Linked DNA regions of Homo sapiens. The protein of the gene in region 1 purifies or fractionates together with the protein of each later gene. This does not show direct contact. Each region holds a gene or a part of one and is shown on either strand. Other genes may lie near its edges.

The links. Proteins that work in one complex are often made in the same cells at the same time.
Region 2: the proteins of SLC25A23 (region 1) and DDI2 purify together in Homo sapiens (affinity purification with mass spectrometry; one large-scale study listed by BioGRID and IntAct). This does not show direct contact.

Annotation. Positions count from the first base shown.
Region 1 is NC_000019.10:6,439,517-6,442,898, reverse strand, and holds the end of SLC25A23 (mitochondrial adenyl nucleotide antiporter SLC25A23), read left to right. Parts: intron 1-739; coding exon 740-924; 3' UTR 925-2,835; downstream 2,836-3,382. UniProt on the Homo sapiens protein: Electroneutral antiporter that mediates the transport of adenine nucleotides through the inner mitochondrial membrane. Originally identified as an ATP-magnesium/inorganic phosphate antiporter, it also acts as a broad specificity adenyl nucleotide antiporter.
Region 2 is NC_000001.11:15,662,316-15,665,968, forward strand, and holds part of DDI2 (protein DDI1 homolog 2), read left to right. Parts: 3' UTR 1-3,653. UniProt on the Homo sapiens protein: Aspartic protease that mediates the cleavage of NFE2L1/NRF1 at 'Leu-104', thereby promoting release of NFE2L1/NRF1 from the endoplasmic reticulum membrane.

The DNA of each region.
Region 1 (3,382 bases):
ACTTTGGGAGGCCGAGGTGGGCGGATCACCTGAGGTTAAGAGTTCAAGGGCCGGGTGTGGTGGTTCACGCCTGTAATCCCAGCACTTTGGGAGGCCGAGGCGGATGGATCACCTGAGGTTGGGAGTTGGAGACCAGCCTGACCAACATGGAGAAACCCCGTCTCTACTATAAATACAAAAAAATTAGCCGGGCAAGGTGGCGCATGCCTGTAATCCCGGCTACTTGGCAGGCTGAGGCAGGAGAATTGCTTGAACCCGGGAGGCGGAGGTTGCAGTGAGCCGAGATTGCACCATTGCACTCCAGCCTGGGCAACAAGAGCGAAACTCCGTCTAAAAAACAAAAAGTGGGTGGAGGGCAGGGAGGAGCCTGACTTAGACTGGAGCACCAAGGAGGAGTCCCCTGGGGAGCTGGCTCTGGGATAGGGGTTGGGAATATGAGTAGGAGTCAGCTGGGAAAGGAGGGAGGGAACCTGGCTCCAGGAGGAGGACATTTCTGTCCTTTCTCACCTTGCACACCCATACCTGCTCCATTTCTAATTGTCCCCAAACTTGGGGCGAAAAGGTGAGCAGCCAGTTCCAAGGTCAATACAAGTCTCGACTCTGAGTGGTAGGTCCCACTGTTAGTCTAACCTCCTTCCCTCCTGCTGCAATGACACCACCTGGCCCAACCCTGGGGGTAGGAGGGGGAAGTGAAAGGGGAACGTTGGCCTTACCTGGTGCCCCCCCCGCCCCCTCCCAGCCTCCATCGAGGGTGGCCCCCAGCTGTCCATGCTGGGTCTGCTACGTCACATCCTGTCCCAGGAGGGCATGCGGGGCCTCTACCGGGGGATCGCCCCCAACTTCATGAAGGTTATTCCAGCTGTGAGCATCTCCTATGTGGTCTACGAGAACATGAAGCAGGCCTTGGGGGTCACGTCCAGGTGAGGGACCCGGAGCCCGTCCCCCCAATCCCTCACCCCCCACACCTCAGCCACTGGAGACTGATGATCCAACCACAGGATCCCTACTCTTTGGCCACGAGATCCCAGTACCCAGATCCTGGATCCTAGACTCCTATGCCCCAACCATTGGGTCATGGGATCCCAGCATCCAGATCCTGGATCCTAGACTCCTATGCCCCAACCACTGGGTCATGCGATCCCCACCCTTCAGCCACTAGATCCCAGATCCCCCTGTAACCATAACTGTGGATCCCTTACTTCAGCAACTCAAGTCTGCTACCCTAACCACAAGATTCAAGATTATCCACACCCCAGCCCTTAATCCCCATCCCCCAAATCACTGGATCCTGCAGCCCCACATCCTAAGGTGGATCCCACGCTTCCCTGTGCCCCCTACTGGATCCTGGACCTCTACGTCTTAACCACTGGATCCCACACAAATCAGTGAATGGATCCCAACACCCCAACCACAGGAGCACGGATTCCCTGTACCTCAACACCCAGACCCTGCCTCCCTCAGGCACCAGATCCAGTGTCCTAGTGAAACGCTGGATCCTAGATCCCCAACCCCAGATCCCCATGCCTCGAGCCCTGGATCTCCAAGCTCAGCTGCTGGATTCTGGATGTCAACAAACCTCACCACTGGATCCTGACAACCACAATGCCTGGATCCTGGGGCCCCCATCACTGGATCCCAGATCCCCTCACTCCACCCACTGGATTCCTGCATTGGTTTTTGGTTTTTTGTTTTTTTTTAACCTCGACACTGGGTCTCAGATCCTTCTGCTGACTGCCAGATCCCTGCATTTCAAGCACTACGCCTTCCACCCCCAGGCACTGGATCCCAGATTCCCAAGCCTTCACCCACCAGATTCTGGCTCCTAAAACAAGTGCGGGGGCCCCAGTGGCACAGCAAGTGGATCCTGGCAACTGCAGCTGCTGGATTCCAGATTCTGGGTCCCCAATCCCTCTGCCCAGTCCCTCAATGTTGAAACCTCATCTCTTGAAGGCAGATCCTGATATTCCAAGGCACTGAATCCCAAGCCCTGAATCCCCGGTTTCTGATCTGAATCTTCCAGGCGCCGGGTCCCAAATGTTCAGGCCCCAAGTCTAGATCCTGGCAGCCCAGTCACAGAGTATCCCACACACACTGGTGCCCAGAGCCGGCTTCTCATGACATGAAATTGCATGGTCGAGGGAGTCTGTGGGGAAGGAAGCCCAGGTCCTGGCTGCAACCTGCACGGATGCTGGATTCCCCCTCACCCCACCTCTGCATGGCCACCCCCTCCCAGCCCTGTGGGGAAACTGTTCCCTGGAACCACTCCACTCCCTGCATCCCCACACTTCACAGCATCTTCCATCCCCCTCCCACCTTCTAGGCGAATAGTCCCCAGAGCTGTGTTCCTCCAAGGGGTCCGAGGAATCACTCACTCCTGGAGGCTGGCAAGGAGACAGTCTGAGGCCAGGGACACATGAAGGGATGTCCCCACCCCAGCACTATCAGGGCCTCCCCAGGCTTCCAGAGTTGAAAGCCAGGAGAAAATCGGCAAAGACCACCCTTCCCTAAACCCAAGCACCCAATGATGCAAAAAACAAAAACAAAAAAAAACCACCAAATCCCCAAATTCATTCCAGATCTATTTTTCTACCAGAGAGAGGAGCAAAGTCCTCCTCCCCTGCGCCCTTACATTCTGCACTTCATAGTTGGATTCTGAGCTTAGGATCATCTGGAGACCCCATGGAGGGACTTGGAAAGGGGAACTGGGATTTGGGGAGGGGCTGGAGGACTTCCGCACGCTTCCACCTCCTTCGACCTCCACTGCGCCCCACCTCCCTGCCTGTGTGTGTTATTTCAAAGGAAAAGAACAAAAGGAATAAATTTTCTAAGCTCTTTTATTGTGGTTTTTACTGAAAAGGGGGTGGGTGGCTATGGGACCACCTTAGTCTACCCCTAGGGAAGGGACAAGGGGCTGCTTCCCAACACCCACAGTTCCAAGAGCCAGGAAATGATTCCCTCTTTGAGCCTCAGTTTACACATCTATAAAATGGGAGCAGGGGAGGGAGTCCCTGTTTATAACCCCTTCTAAATTTTCTGGGCTTTATTATTTTTATTTATTTATTTATTTTTGAGATGGAGTCTCACTCTGTTGCCCAGGCTGGAGGGCAGTGGCACGGTCTCAGCTCACTGCAACCTCTGCCTCCCGGGTTCAAGCGATTCTCCTACCTCAGCCTCCTGAGTAGCTGGGATTACAGGCACCCACCACCACGCCCGGCTAATTTTTTGTATTTTTAGGAGAGACAGGGTTTTACCATGTTGGCCAGGCTGGTCTCGAACTCCTGACCTCAAGTGATCCACCTGCCTCAGCCTCCCAAAATGCTGGGATTACAGGCGTGAGCCACCACGCCCGGCCTCTGTATTTTTTTTCAAATTACAAATTTCA
Region 2 (3,653 bases), on another chromosome or scaffold:
GTGCTTAGGATTTGACATTTTAATAGGGCGAGCAGGAGGGTTTAAATCTTGGGCTACTTTGTGCATCACAGGCTGCTGCATGGATTGCCATGAATCCTTATTACATTGGATGGGATATTGTGGGGGAGTTACAATGCAAGTGAAACGTGGTGCTACCCAGATTCTTAAAAGAACAGAACAACCATAATTCCATTTGCAGATGTCAAGAACTGTGAGGGAAAAATAATGGCCTAAACACTGGAATTTGCTAGAGTTTGGGTTTGCTAGCATCTCACTGATAACACCTCAACCCTTAATGACTAATGGTGGAATTAAGTTCAGGAATGGATTCATTGCCAGCAGCTTATTTCCTTTCTAGACTCTTCTGCCAGGAAGTTCTTCAAACGCTCAGTGTGAGCTGTGATCTGAGTGAAATACTAAGTGTGATAACCTTGTCACTGGTTAATCTTGGTGCTTGGAACGGTCAGTCTATTTGGAGAGTGTCCTTTGTGGCAGTGGAAATAGTAATTACAGTTTCTGACTTAAGTGGCCTTGGTAGAGTTTTCCATCCTTTTCTTTCCTCAGGAGTTTCTTTTTTAAGCAAAATTCATCTTATTTGTGTTTACCATGTCAAGTTAGAGTGGGGCATAATATATAGATGTATTTATTGTGGCCTTTTTTTATATAAGGACTAGCCCTTGGAAATCATTGTCCTGTGGGCCCCACTGTGCAATAATCCTACTGGATAGGTTTTAGATAATTCTTTCCTGGCAAACTGCTCTTTTGGGTACCTAGCAGGAATCTGAAGTCTTGGTTTTATTGAAAAGAATTTTGAGATTCATAATTTCTGATTCTAGATTATAGTTTGTAACATGTTTGAAACAGAAGCTTCGAAAGAGTGATTTCTCAACTTAGTGTTAAATGATTTTGTCTGAAGTCTGACTCTTTGTAAGCTTGTTTGTTTCATCAAATTTTAAGTCATTGAGCACAATCAAAATGGAGGCTCATATCTCAGGAGTTTTTGAAATTTTAATTTAGGGGCACTTAGAGACATTTTTTTCTACCCCATCCAACTTCTTTCTTTCCTTTTGCTATGATGTTTGTATGTATGTTATAAGACTTTAGTGATGGGATGGCGTGTCACGTAGATTCATCATGATCCTTTATGTAGTTAGGAAATGGTTGACAGAAGGAATTGTAGTTTACTGCTTTTCAGAGGGCGTGAAGAACAACAGGTCAGCCAGGTTGTCTTTAAGATGTTCTTTTAGACAGCTGCACATTGTAGACCCTTTCACCTGCCCTACACCAAAGATGTACGATGCACTAGGAAACTGCTCATAGGATTTCTGTCAGCTGACTTAAAGCTGTGATTGTAATTAAATAGTTGGTGCTATGATTGATGCAAAATCTAGTAGCAATGCAATGGGACCCTGTATTTGCTTTATGGGTGGTGGTTTGGGAATGTATTCTAAGCTTATAAATCTTTGGAACCACGGGGTGGGAAGGGTGGGGGAACTTACTGATGACAATAGACTCCCTCCTAAAGGGCCTTCCATGTAAGCAGAACGAACCTTGGCACACAATTCAGTGTGGATATTTGGGAAACAGTTCCAAGTGGAATATATAATATCAGTCGGGAAAAGATTTCATTAGGATAGCTTTTTGTGTATGTATATGTATATTTATTTTTAGGAATAGATCTATAGTTGTACATGAATTCCTGTTAGGAATACTCTGAATGAGCTTAACCCACTTGCCAAATATCCTTGTCCCTTCCATCATTTTATTTTTGAGATGGGGTCTTGCAGTGTTGCCCAGGCTGGACTCAAACTCTGGGGCTTAATCATCCTTCTGAGTAGCTGGGACTACATAAAGGCCAAAGTATAATTGCTTTTGATTTTTAAAATCTTCTTGCCCATCATTTTTATAAAAATAAAGCTGTTTGTCCAACACGGTGAAACCTCATCTCTACTAAAAATACAAAAAATTAGCTGGGCATGGTGGCACACGCCTGTAATCCCAGCTACTTGGGAGACTGAGGCAGGAGAATTGCTTGAACCTGGGAGATGGGGGTTGCAGTGAGCCTAGATCACGCCACTGCACTCCAGTGTGGGCGGCAGAGTGAGACTCTGTCTCACCCAAAAAAAAAAAAAAAAAGCTATTGACACTGTTAATATTTTGGATGACTTAAATTTAGCAGCTCTAGAATGCAAAGGGTATATTAAGGAGCATTACAATAGTGAACCTTCATCGTCAGCTTTTATTCAATTAAGAGCTCCAGAAATGCAGAAATTATGGGTTAACTTCTAAGAATACCATCAAATCCCTGTGAATTCTGGTTGCCAACAGTAATAACCAGTAATGGGCACCTTTACCGGACAGCTCCTTTACCATAACCAGTAGTGGGCAGTTCTGCGGTCAGCACTTAACTACAAGGGCGGTCTCTGTTTCTTCACCAGAGAGAGAAGATTTTCCTGTGTAATTTGTGCCATTTCCCTGAAGTTGGTTCTTGAGCGGAAAGATGTGCTTGGTAACCAGACAGCAGCTTTACATAGGTTATAGATTTTGCTCATTGATGCTGTTAAGAATTATTTCCACTCATACCTGTTCAGGGCTCCAGACAGCCAATAGCCTTCATCCCACAGTTTGGGCTTCAGCTATTAACACATAAAGATAACCAGTTGCAGCTAGGCTCGGTGGCTCACACCTGTAATCCCAGCACTTTGGGAGGCCAAGGCGGGTGGATCACCTGAGGGCAGGAGTTTGAGACAGGCCTGGCCAACATGGTGAAACTCCATCTCTACTAAAAATACAAAAATTAGCCGGGTGTGGTGGCCCATGCCTGTAATTCCAGCTACTCGGGAGGCTGAGGCAGGAGAATCACTTAAACCTGGGAGGCGGAGGTTGTGGTGAGCAGAGATCACGCCATTGCACTCCAGCCTGGGCAACAAGAGCAAAACTCTGTCTCAAAAAAAAAAAAAAAAAAGGTAACCAGTTGCTTGGCAAAGGAAGCTGGAGAGATGGCGAGTGCATGTGTTAAAACTCTTCTGCCTTGCAGCCCACATCTTCTAGAGCTCCCTGTCTTCATATGTACTAAAGGGAGACACAACCCTATGTGTTTTTTCCCAAAGCATGTCTCTAGCAAGAGGGTACATAGAAATGGAACATGAGGCTTTTTGTCACTGATTTTATGATAACCAGTTAATGTGGAATCTGCTGGTTGTCTTACTACAGCTTTCTATCTCCGGTGAAAGCCATAAAAATTTAGGTTAACTTTTAAGCTCATGTCTATATATATGTGTGTAAGCTAGCATATACATATGGTGATTGACAAGTATAGTTAATTTTATATGGATTTAAAAGCAAGCAATTTTTATATCTACAGACGTACTCTTCACTTATGGTGGCTTTTATCCCGCCACATATATAAATATATATATATATAGCAAACAGCCTTGCAAATCATCGGCCAGAAAAGCTGCAGGGCGTTGCAATGGCCTTTTCCTACCTGTTTGCCACCTGTGGTGAGGGTGAGCAGGATGATTGAACTGCTGCATATTTCAAACCTGTTATCACTGGCAGTGTGTCCCAAGAGAAGCTGACCAGATTATGCATTCTACTGTTCTCTAGCACAAGTACTCACCAAAAAGCCAAATTTCCCCTTTGGAGTTGGT